Regions from separate parts of the Homo sapiens genome. Here regions 2 and 3 are each linked to region 1. Evidence: fine-mapped expression QTL. A gene starts in region 1. Each other region holds a variant in brackets. All regions are shown on one strand. Distances are from middle to middle.

Region 1 (4,287 bases):
CGCCCAGGCTGGAGTGCAGTGGCGCGATCTCGGCTCACTGCAAGCTCCGTCTCCCAGGTTCACACCATTCTCCTGCCTCAGCCTCCCGAGTAGCTGGGACTACAGGCACCCGCCACCACGCCCGGCTAATTTGTTGTATTTTTAGTAGAGATGGGGTTTCACCGTGCTAGCCAGGATGGTGTCGATCTCCTGACCTCGTGATCCGCCCGCCTCGGCCTCCCAAAGTGCTGGGATTACAGGCGTGAGCCACCGCGCCCGGCAGAATAAGTCTTTTCTTAGCTCAAGCTAGTTTAGCCTGGGTTTCTGCTACTTGGATTGGAATACAATTGTGATTCTCCTGTGAAACAAGTAGAATATACTATACGGAGAAAACGAGATTAACAAGGTATGCAAAAGAAATGTTTAACTATAAAATCGTAAAAAATGTTCTTATAACTATTAAGTATCATGAAAGGAACCCTCATTAAATCAGCATGAGCTAAATAAGCGTTTGCTAAAATAACAAATTTACTCTACTGTGTATATATCTGTTTGTGAACAAACTGCTTTTAAACAACCTACCTTGAACGGTTCAACTATGTAACTAGAGTTTTATTTCAAATAGTTGTAGCTCCTAACTTTCAGAATTCTCCATCTATCATTTGATTATTTTGAACTGAGGAAGACGGTCCATTTCATGTGGACAATGTGATGAGCTGATCAGACATTTGGTCCAGTGTCCCAATTCCCCCACTTCCCCCACTGCCTTCAAGCAACTACTATTATGAAATCAAAATGTGGCCCAAGAAAGACAGTGATGGAAAAATGGGGCGAAAGGGGAAGCTTCAGTTAGAGACCCAAAAAAGTGAAGACTAGTTCTAAGTAAATGTGGCAAAAGAGATCAGTACAGGGCAGACTGCTGCTCCCAGGTATCTGATCCACGGAGCCCTCGCCGACCAAGGGCTAGAGCAGACGTGCAGGCAGGACAAGCGGGCAGTCACAGCGGGCCTGCAGGGCGGGTCCTGCTCACCAGCAAAGAATGCAGACCACACCTACGCGCCTGGTCAGGCCGGGACGGGGCGGCTCCGCCCAGGTTACAGGATTGAAGGAAGGGGGGAGACGGGAAGAGGAGCGGCGAGCGACGGCTGGCAGACAACCTACCCACTCCCAGCCCCGCGCCCACCTCAGGAGCGTCTCGAGCGCGCCCTCGTGCTTGTCCAGCGGACGACCGACTGCGGCGCGGCGCAGCTTGCTGAGCTCCTCCGCCGCGCGGCAGTACTGGGCCTGCTCTTCCCCGCCGCTTGGGTAAGTCTGCTGGATGAACTTCACCAGCGGCTTGGCCAGGTCCACCTCTGAGGTCTTTTTCAGCTGCACCGAGATGAATGTCGCCATGATCAGCGCCTCCGCCGCCGTTCGGGCCAAACAGACCGCGGACAGCTTACGAGGGCCGAGGAGAGAGAGGTACTGGGCTGGCGGACTGGCGGACTGACTGGCTGACAGACTTGCGCTCCGCCTGCGTTCCGGGTCCGGCAACTTCCGGGAGCTCCAGCGCAGGCGCACTGGATGCGGGGTCCTTAAGCTGTCCGCGGTCACGTGAAGGTGTCGCGGCGGCTACGCCCACCTGGACCCAGTTTACCCTGTACTGTGCTGCAAAATATTACTTTCTCCCCATCTGGAATTCTTCCCTTCCTCCTTCCTGCCGCAGTGGTGTACTGAGCACTTTCACGTAAGAGTATTCCTCCACTCGAACAACCCCCCGGAGAAGTACTGGTGTCACTGCCACCTGCGAGAGTTTGCGGCTACCTCCCCAAGAGGCAGTCCCAGGGTTATTGTGACCTATGATGTTTATTCAACTACTGTTGACGGGCTGCTGTGCACAGGGAACCTAGTAGGCAAGACCCCTGCCATCGTGCAGCTTACTGTCAGGTTGACACAGACCTTAAGGTAAACGGAAAAAGTATCAGGAAAAAAACAGGGTGCTTGGGACTTAGGAGATGTTAAGATCGCTTGGAGGACCCTAATTTAAATAAGATAAAGTAGGTTTTCTCCGAGTAGGTTAACTGAAAATGAACCTGTGTCTCTGGTTGCTGTTTTGTAGAAAGAACAAAATTTTAAATAAATTAAAAACGACACCTGTAATTTGAGAAGATGCTTGATATCAGAAGAGGAGAAGAGTGGAGAGGGGTGGAGTGGCAAAGGAGAGCCTCCAAACCAAAAGCCTGCGGCAGAGGCCCTAGGAGGCAAGCACTTAACCATGTTTCAGGACTAGAAACGAAACATGTGACAAGACCTTTAAAAACAAATAGAATGGGATGGAATAAAGTTGGATGAGTAAGCAGGCATCAAATCATTCAGAAACTTGTTGTCCAAGTTGAAGAATTTGTTTAGTATTGTATAATAAATGCAGAGGAAGCTATATACACTTATAATTTACATTTTTTAAAGGCCACGTTGTAGCTCAATCGGATAGTTTGTCTTTTGATGGGATGTAGTATACAGTATCATCATGGTATATTCCAGGCAAAAATATTTAACTTGAATCTGTCAAGCCTTTGCATCTAACACAGTTTATAAAAAATACAACAGATAGATGAACAAACTAAATGATGCCAGAGGAAGTAACTAGACAGATCCAGAAGGTGAAACATTCTGCAGGATAACTGGCCCATCTCTTCAACAATTTGTCATGATAAAAGCAACTGCTTTATGAAAAGAAATTTAAGGGACATAACAGTTTGAATTGGATCCTGGTTTGAACAGACTGTCTATAAAATGCATTTTCAGGACCATTAAAGAAATATGAATGTAGATGGACTGAGTATTGGATAAAATAGAACTGTATTGCCATGGAAAAGATCATTAACTGAAAAGAGCAAGTCACGAAATAGTATGTTACAGCATCTCATTTTGGTTTAAAAATGCACATATATGTATTTATGTACAACTAAAAAAATAGTGGGCTTATACCCTAAGGTGTTAGTATTGGTAATCTTTGGAAGTGGAAATGTGTATTTTTTTCTTTGTGTTTGCCTATCTTTTTCATTGTAACTTTTGCAGCACATAGACTACTTTCATTATAGTAAAAGTTTATTTTACCACAATTTTTTTTTTTTTAGAAAGAGTCTCACTCTGTCACCCAGGCTGGAGTGCAGTGGCACAATCTCAGCCCACTGCAACCTCCACCTCCCAGGTTCAAGCTATTCTCCTGCCTCAGCCTTCTGAGTAGCTGGGACTACAGGTGCACACCACATGCCTGGCTAATTTTTGTATTTTTAATAGAGACTGGATTTCGCGATGTTGGCCCGGCTGGTCTCGAACTCCTGGCCTCAAGTGATCCACCCGCTTTAGCCTCCCAAAGTGCTGGGATTACAGGCGTGAGCCACTGCACCCGGCCTATTTTACCACAATTTATAAAAATTTTTGTTTATTTTAATTAAGCTATTCTATGTTAAAATAAGTAGCCACCCTTGGCTGATGCATAAAGAAAAAATTAGAGGAAGGAAAGAATGGAGGCAAGGAGGCAAATCATGAGACCATTTCAGAAATCAAGACGAAATCAGGAAAGCTAACATTAGCAAGAGTGAACCAAACTGATAATATCTTTGAGTTTAAAACTGAAGAATTTACCAATGAACTGCATAGGAAAGTAAAGAAAAGAGAGTGGTCAAGATAGGTCCTGGTTTTGGGGCCTGAACATCTGAGTGGTTAGTAGAATCATTACCAGTTGATAACCCATGGAAGAGGGTGGGGGATGGGTGGTGTCTTGTAGGTTGGTTGACAGGACTGACCCATTGGGAAGATAACGAAGAAGCAAAGTATATGAAAAGAGGAGAAAGGGTAACCAGAGGAGGGAGGATACAAAGGGAGTGATTAGCCATCAGAAAGATGAGGGACATGACATTTGTTGAGGCAGATGGCGGAGAAAAGAAAGTTAACATAGATGTGGTTAGTTTTGTGGCATTGACCAAAGGAAGATTAAGGTGATACTATCTGATGGCTTGGAATGAAAACCAAACTCCCTGCCACAACATGATGATCTTTCTCTGCAACTTCATATTTTGCCTCTTGTTCCTCATTTGTTACCACTGAGTCACAATGGTCTTTTTAGTTTCTCAAACACACCAAGATCTTTCTTGCCTCATGTGACCTAGAATGTTTTCTCCCTTTCTTCATATCTCAGTTGAAAGGTCTCCTCTCCTCATCATCATACTATCTAAAGTAGATTCCCTCCCTTGTTAACCTCTAGCGCAGCCATTAGTTCCTTCATAACACTTACCCTAACTTGCAAGTATTTTGTTTGTTGATATA
Region 2 (4,000 bases), 41 kb before region 1:
GTAGTGGTGAGCACCTATAATCCCAGCTACTTGGGAGGCTGAGGCACAAGAATCACCTGAAGCCGGGAGGCGAAGGTTGCAGTGAGCCAAGATCTCACCACTGCATTCCAGCCTGGGCGACAGAGTGAGACTCCGTCTCGGGGGAAAAAAAAAAAAAAGTCAAAAAATAAGAAAAACTATGACCGCATTAAAATATATTAGGTATCGTCGGCTTACAGTTCAAACTTCTTTCAGTCTAAGTAATTAAAAGTCAAAAATTCTATCCTAAAAAAGCAGTCTTTTATACTTTTGATTGTTACAGCATCTCTAACAAGTCAGAAACAATACACAAAATAGTTATTTTTTTCTTTTTTGCTCTCTTTCAACAGAATCAATAGTTATAATTTCACATCATCTAGGCAAAATGTCAACAGAAAATAGATGATCTAAGTATTCATTACAGAATCTTCATCTGTTCTCAGTTTTGTAGCACAATAACAATTCCTCAGTTATTTCAGTTACATGATGGCGAAGGGAGGTACATATCCCTATCTACTATGTAACGACAAAAAGGCAAATGAAATGATGTAATACAATGAACTCCTCAGAAAATAAGCTCTGTAAAATCTCAGACTGCCTGTTTATCATATGCTAGAGTAAACTTACATTCCTTTCTTGTTAGAGAAAAATGATGGTAAAATCCATGCATTAATCAAAACTAAAAACATGAAAAGGCAAGCCAACTACAAGAGAAATACAGTTGGCCCTTGAACAACACAGATTTGAACTACATGAGTCCGTGTACCTGTGGACTTTCACCTCTTTCACCTCTGCCACCTGTAAGACAGCAAGACCAACCCTCCTTCCGCCTCTTCCTCAGCCTACTCAAACTTGAAATAGACAAGGATGAAGACCTTTATGATGATCCATTTCCATTTAATCATAGTAAATATATTTTCTCTTCCTTATGATTTTCTTAATAGTATTTTTTCTCTAGCTTATTTATTATAAGAATATACTATATAATACATATACAAAGTATGTGTTAATTGACTGTTTATCGGTAAGGCTTCTGGTCAACAGCAGGCTATTAGTAGTTAAGTTTTGGGGACTCAGAAGTTATATGCAGATTTGACTGTGCAGGGGGGTCAGCATCCATAACCCCATGTTGTTCAGGGTCACCTATATTCTCAATTATATGTATCTGACAAAGGACTTGCCTCCAAAATATGTAAAGAAGTCTTTAACTATTAAGAAAAACTCACTTTTAAAAACTGAGAAAAAGATTTCAATAGACACTTTACAGAAAATATATGAATGGCTAGTAAGCACATGAAAAGCTGCTCAGTATCATTAGCAATTAGGAGAATGCAAACTAAATCACAGTGAGATTCTGCTACACACACACTAAAGTAGCTAAAACTAAAAAGACTGACATACCAAGTATTGGTGAGGATGCAGAACAATTGTATTTTCAAACAGTGCAGATAGGATATAAAATGGAACAACCACTTTGGAAAACAACCTGGCAATTTTGTATAAAATTAAATATGCTAACCACACAACCTAACAATTTGTCTCCTAAGTATTTACCCAAGAGAACTAAAATATGTCCACACGAAGATTTATACATGAATGTTCACAGAAACTGAAATGCCCATTAACAGGTGAAAGAGTTAACAAACTGCTCTATAACCATAAAATGGAATACTGCCGTATAACCATAAAATGGAATACTGCCCTATAACCATAAAATGGAATACTGCTCAGCCATAGAAAAGACTGAAACTGATACACATAATATAGATGAATCTCAAAAACAGTAGCTAAGTGAAAAAAAGCAAAACACATTCTAAGTATATACTGTACATACTGTAAGTACTGTATATGCATATGCTAGAATGATTACACGTGTTTTAAATTGTATAAAAAGTAAAACTAAACTTAAGACAGGGAGCAGATCAATAGCGGCCAGGGGCTAAAAGAAGAAGGACTGGGAAAGGGGCATGAGAGAATTTTTTTAGGGTAACAGTAATGTTCTCTAACTTAATCATAGTGCCGGTTACATGGGTACATACATTTATCAAAACTAACTAAATGACCAAGCATGGTGGCTCATGCCCGTAATCCCAGCACTTTGGGAGGTCAAGGCAGGAGGATCGCTTGAGCCCAGGAGTTCAAGACCAGCCTGGGCAACAAAGTGAGATCTTGTCTCTATAAAAATATCAAAAAATTAGCCAGGTGTGGTGGCTTGCACCTGTGGCCTCAGCTACACAGGAGGCTGAGGCAGGAGGATCACCTGAGCCCAGAAGGTTGAGACTGCAGTGAGCCATGTTTAGTGTTTACACCACTGCACTCCAGCCTGGTGACAATAAGACCCTGTCCCAAAAAACAAAAAA[T/A]ATATATATATACATAAATATATATATATACACATACACACACACACACACATATACATATAATAATTGAACTGTGCACTTAGAATAGGTGTATTTTGTGTGTGTAAAATATACCTAAAAATTTTTTAAACCAATGAATTATTTTCTTAGTATTCAGTCCATCAGAAACAAAAATTGGTTCAGAACACTAAATGTACCATGTATCTGAGTTCATTTCTACTTCTCATTTCCAAATAAATACCTCTTAAAATACAAATTTTTAGTCCTCATATCCTCACCTTGTTTCTATAATTTCTTCCAACTATATTTGCTAGAGCTTCATAAATACAGTGTCCAACAAAAATAGTTGTAAGTGTGTGTCTACATTTTCTATTTTATATACTCTTGACATTTAGCTCTAAGCTCAGAAACTAAAATGTTCATAAACTAAAGAACAACCAAACGGAAAACTTTAGGCTCTAAAATTAAGCTCTACCTACCCATTTGCCAAAGTGGTGGCTTCTCTCATCTGAGCAATTGATCTGTTAACCAAATCGGCTTTCCTCTGATTATAGGCAGCCAAAGACTGCTGTACTGACACGGGAACCATCTTCTCAAACAGATCTAAAATTAGGAAGAGAAATTACAACAAAATTTTTAGACAAAAACCCGAACTGTAAAAGTGACTGTTTATATTTTCTTTCCAATATTCACATAGTCTATAAATATTTATTGTCTATTGACATTTAAAGATCAAAACTAAATCACTATTTAAAGCACAATGATAAAGAGAATTTTTAGATCACTACATTCATGGACAACGGCAACAATGAAAAGTTTCTTCTTTGAACTTAATTTTCTTTCTTTTTCAGATGTGTTCATCACTGAGTTTGAGGGATCTTCAGTGACACTGTTCATCTGTTGATTAAACTGAATGAGGGGCCGGGAGCAGTGGCTAAGGCCTGTAATCCCAGCACTTTGGGAGGCCGAGGCAGGTGGCTCACCTGAGGTCAGGAGTTCAAGACCAGTCTGGCCAACTTGGCAAAACCCCATCTCTACTAAAAATACAAAAATTAGCCAGTGTAATGGTAGGAGCCTGTAGTCCCAGCTACTGGGGAGGCTGAGGCAGGAGAATCGTCTGAACCCAGGAGGCGGAGGTTGCAGTGAGCCGAGATTGCACCACTGCACCACAGCCTGGGCAACAGAGCAAGACTCGGTCTCAAAAAAAAAAAAAAAATTGACTGAGTGGGTCACGGCAGCAGGATTCCATTTCTGGCTCCAACACTTCCTAGCTATGTGACCTTGAGGAAATTACTTAACCACTCTGTGCATCAGTATCCTCATCAAATAGGGATAATAACAGTACCCATCTCAGGGCACTTCTGAAAACAAATGAGCTAATATTTGTAAAGTGCTTAAAGAGTGCCTGGCACATGGTAAACACTTTGTGTTTGCTAAATAAACATATAATCACCCTTTCCCAGTAACAGAATATTCTCCTTGGAATCTCAGCTAGAGGCTACCATCTGTTGTATACATCTACAATATAATAACATGTATTTATCTCATACAAATACCACTCCAGAAGTTTACATGTTTAAAGAAATAGGCCGGGCACGGTGGCTCATGCCTGTAATCCAAGC
Region 3 (4,356 bases), 120 kb before region 1:
CTCCTGATCTAATCAATTCACACAATCTGAGGAGTAAATGACTACTGAGGTTGAAAGTGTCACCTTTCCCAGGGTTATATGCATGTAAGGGCTCAACAGAATCCATTCTTTCAGTAAGTAGTTACTAAGCACCTTCTAAGGGCCAAGCAACAAACTAGACACTGGTGATATACCAGGTGACCAAAAAAAGGCCTGGTCCCCAAGTTCCTGGAGCGGATGGGTTAGCAGGGAACTTCTCTGATTATATGATGTGAAGACATAGCTGGGCACTGGGGAGAGGATATCTTAAAATGACCACAAGGCTCCCTGGACACAGAATCCACACCACTGAGCCCAAAGTGGACCTTGGACAAACCCAATGGCTAAGCCAGCCACAACACAGCCCTGCCATTCTAGACAGTTTCTTCAGGCTCTAGAATTTCCTGAGGAAGCCACAACTGCTTTCTCCCTGCAATGCTGTTAGATGATAGGCCTTAACTGTGTGTATCTTGGAAAGACTCGTGCTTTTTGTTTTGTGGTTAGGGTGCAGTGCAGGGGTGAGGGGACCGGGCAAGGGAAAGAATTGAATGATATTAAAGCTCAAATCACAGAGTTGTGATGGGATTAACATCTGTTCCTAGGCAAATTTACCAATGATAATTCAGAACTTCACATTTTCTGGGCAACAAGACTCATTTACACAGAGCATTTGAAAATTCTGTTGTTCTGTCTCCCTAGCCTGTGAAGAGCATGCAGAACGCAATCTGCACTTGCTTATTTTGTATCTAAGCAACTGTCAGATTCCATATCTACTAATAAGAAAGGGTATAATTATACCCTGATACTTTAATTAGTAGCAGATGCCTGTGTTTGTGAATAAAATGTAAGATTTTTAGAGGTCCGGAAGCTCAATTATATGCAAACTTCAAGTGCCTGATGTTTAGGCCCCTAATTCTTCCTGTTGGTCAGCACAGACACAGAAGCCCAAACAGTAGCCTTTACCAGATTTCACAATAGTGAGGAGGGCTGGGGGTCTATTTACCTGAGATATTCATATCATTGCATACCACTGTGTAATAGATGCAGCCATTCACTAGCAATTTTCCAGAAAAGATGGTAACATCTTTATTTTTAATTCACCATTTCTTTCTACCTACAAAACCTACTCAAGTAATACACCCTAAAAGAAAAGAAATAGAACTTGGAGAATGAGGGCAGCCCACTGTAAATTGTGGTTGGGTTGCAGTTTGGACAGCATCTTCCTGGGTGTATTTTTGAGTTTATCTATCGCAGAAGGTGTATTTCCTCAAGCAAAAAAAAAAAAGAAAGAAAGAAAGAAAAGAAAAAAAAGCCTTTAAGTGTACTAGCTTGGTTTTTTCCCCCTCTTAGAAGTTAAAGCAAGTTCCCATAAATTAAAAAATAAATAAATTTGCTTCCTCAGGTCTAAAAGCACTATGTCTTGTATCAAGGCCTTTGGGGAAGGACAAAAGTGATCAAACATGTCCTTGGAATCACTAATATTGCTGCTTACTCATTTCCACCCGGTAAATGCAAAGCCCTCAAGGTTTAAAATATCATCAGAATTAAAAAAAAAAAATGAAGAAAGGAAGGAAAGAGGGAAGGCAGGGAGAGAGGGAAGGAGGGAGGGAGGGAGAGAAGAAAGAAGGAATGAATCCTTCCATAGTCTATGCCTGTGTTCATCACTCACCAGCAGGCCAGCCAGGTGACCTGGGCTTACAAGTTGAATCATAAGCTAGATGGATAAGCTGATCACTAATCCATATACTAATAGGTAC[T/G]GTGTCTCATACTCTTCGTTATAACCTAGATCTCCAGCACAGGGATTGGCCCAGAGTGGGCACTTGCCTATGTTTTGCTGAAATAAACCAAATGGAATTCTCTGGGCCTCAGTTTTCCCATCTGAACAAGGCAAGAGAGAGACAGAATAATTTCTAGCATCCATCCTATAATTCTGAACCCTATTACCTATAGGCTTGTAGACTTCTGCACTGGTCAGCTGTCCAGCCAAGCCTAAATTCAGCTTAGAGAAAGAGAATAACTTGCAAAAGTCCAGATCCTGAACTTAAACACTGAAATCTCTAAGAATAATGTGTCTCTACCCACCTGTCATGACTCCAAGATATTTCAGGCAGCACTCTCACCAACAAGTCAAGAAAACATGGCTTTTTCTTCAACGACTGTCCAACAAAATTCTTCAACTTTTGGCTCCACTGACCAAATGAGAGGGTCCTACCGGAACCAACCACCATAGAATAAAAGAGGCCAGCTCTATAAGGTGACCCTACAATTTGGGGAATTTCACAAAACTTCCCTTTGCCTTGTTTTCTTAGAAGCCAAGTCCCTCAAGTCCAAAGATGGACTCCAGCCTCTCCAATATGAGTGCAACAGGGCTCCACCCTACAAGTTAGTCCCAGGGAATCTGTGGAGGGTGAAGAAAAGAGAAATTTAGGAGCCAGGATAATTCTGCTTTTTTTTTTCCACCCCAGATTCAGCCAAACAGCTGGACACAAGAGGACTGTGATCCAAGCACTTCACCTCCAAGTCTTTAAGAGGCATGAGGGTGTTACCCACGAGCACCGGGGCAGCATGTGGGCATATCATGCCAGCACAGGGCGTGGTGGGAAAGGATGTGCTCATTCCCTCAGGCCAGCTTTCACTAACCAATGTTGCAGAATGCCTGCCACTGCCTCCCTGACCTCAGGGAGTAGATTAGGAACTTTTGACCCATGCTTAATTCCCTCAGCTTCACCATACCAGCTGCTGACATCCCTCCCCTGTGGGGAGACTGGTGTGTTTAACATAGCTAGAGGCAAAAAAGAAGCAATCACTCTTGCCCAAATCTCTCACTCCACAAAAAAACCTTCCCAGACTTGCTGGTGAAGTCTCAGTTTCTTTAATATTATCCCAACAATCTCCCTTCACAACCCAACTGTGCTCAAGCGCACTTCCTCCCCCGGCACCTTGCCTTTATCATTTTGTCTTGCCCCTTGACAGTGACAGAGCTATGCCTGCTTCCCGCTCGTGCCTGGCCATCCATTGCCATCTAGCGTTTGCACACTGGCAGATCTGCCTAACTCAGAGAGCTGCTGAGAGTATTTCTTTGGGCTATTTTGTTCATTGCCCTGGAAACAGATACTAAAACTGGGTTTGGCTTTCCCCATCCCTTGCAGGGAAATCGTTGTTTCTGACAACAGGGACACACCAGCATGGGACTTCTAGGTATTGCATCTGCCCCAGCCCCCATTCTGAAAGAAGCCCTTGAACTAGCTTTTGTATAGCAAAAACACCTCTAGAGCTTCTCAAATGGTACACTGGACCAAGGAGGACCTTGTTAAAATGCAGATTCTGATCTAGCAGGCCTGGGGTGGGTGGATCCAGGAGTCTGCAGTTCTAATAAGCTTCCAGGCAGTGTCCATGCTGCTGGACAAGAGGCTGTGCTTGAAACACAAAGAGCTAAAGGAGAAACAGAGACTCGTCAACACTTAATTAGCAGCTAAGTACTCAAAAAGAGCCTCAGTTCTGTCTTTAAATAGCACAGTGGCCCCTACACAGTGCACAGGACAACCCTGTTGCAGACAGCTTGGAGTGTGCAGGAAGCCTGCAGCCGTAGTGGGCAGCAGAGGGGAGTGTTTTAAGTACTTGCACCTGGAGCTTAAAATCCGACTCCACCACTTACAATGTAGTCTCATCCTCAGTTTTCTTCTTAATAAAATGGGGACAATAATGACCAACTGACCGAGATAATACACATGGAACAATTTAGCCCTGTGGCTGGCACTGAGTGGCTCACTATTACTATGATTCACTGTTAGGAAACCACCAAGTCCCCCGTTGCACTGCCCTTGACTGTCACTTTGTTCTACGAGAGATGATGAGTATGAGAATAGACAGGGGCTTCTCGAGGCCACAACAGCAGACCCTTATATTAAAAAAAGCTGGGAGATGGAGAGGAGAGATGTGAGGAGCAGACGAGGTAATAACTGCTGCTGCCTTTTGATTTCTGCTGAAGCCTCTGGGACCTGCCTCCTCAGTCGTAAATTGTTCTCCAAGGGAATGCAACAACTGATAACCCATGGGGGGGTGGGGTGCGGCGGCTGTCCTCCAGCCTTGCTCGCACACCTCCTCCCCCGCCCCTCTACTTGATGGCCACAGCTTTTATTTTTGCAAGACCTTCCTTGCTTCTACCCACTGGGCAGGAGAAGTGGGTAGTCAAGTCCCAGCTCTGGGGGCTTTGGGCCCTGAGGTGACACCATGAAGAGTGGGTGTCGCCCAGGACAGTGGTGGGTGATAGGCAATCCTGCTCAGTTCTCAGGCTGAGGCCCCAAGGAGCTGACAGTGTGAGGAGTCAGGGAGGACAGA

Which allele goes with the higher level. Positions count from the first base shown, and alleles are read on the strand shown. Sizes are in standard deviations (SD) of each study's normalised expression. Not every link is listed here.
In carriers of allele T in region 2, the expression in monocytes after R848 of the gene that starts at base 1,581 in region 1 tends to be lower than with A alone (moderate effect, 0.71 SD a copy in Quach 2016).

What was found. PIP is the estimated chance that this variant, and not a neighbour inherited with it, causes the effect. A credible set is the group of variants that fine-mapping cannot tell apart.
Region 2: its variant is the best candidate, but not a certain one, in a credible set for the expression of PDCD6IP-DT in monocytes after R848 (Quach 2016, PIP 0.59).
Region 3: its variant is the best candidate, but not a certain one, in a credible set for the expression of PDCD6IP-DT in tibial artery (GTEx, PIP 0.85).

The regions. Positions count from the first base shown.
Region 1 is chr3:33,795,813-33,800,099 of GRCh38, reverse strand. PDCD6IP-DT (PDCD6IP divergent transcript) reads left to right here and starts at 1,581. Exons shown (of 2, transcript NR_183731.1): 1 at 1,581-1,705; 2 at 2,078-4,287. PDCD6IP (programmed cell death 6 interacting protein) reads right to left here and starts at 1,470. Exons shown (of 18, transcript NM_013374.6): 1 at 1,163-1,470. The coding sequence starts at 1,371. RefSeq lists enhancers at 774-1,307, 1,254-1,603.
Region 2 is chr3:33,837,185-33,841,184 of GRCh38, reverse strand. It overlaps PDCD6IP (programmed cell death 6 interacting protein), which reads right to left. Exons shown (of 18, transcript NM_013374.6): 9 at 2,858-2,981. Among named protein-coding and RNA genes, the nearest start is that of PDCD6IP, 41 kb to the right of the region's middle. The variant T/A (reference allele first, on the strand shown) is at 2,379.
Region 3 is chr3:33,914,660-33,919,015 of GRCh38, reverse strand. No RefSeq gene overlaps it. Among named protein-coding and RNA genes, the nearest start is that of PDCD6IP, 120 kb to the right of the region's middle. RefSeq lists an enhancer at 1-364. The variant T/G (reference allele first, on the strand shown) is at 1,776.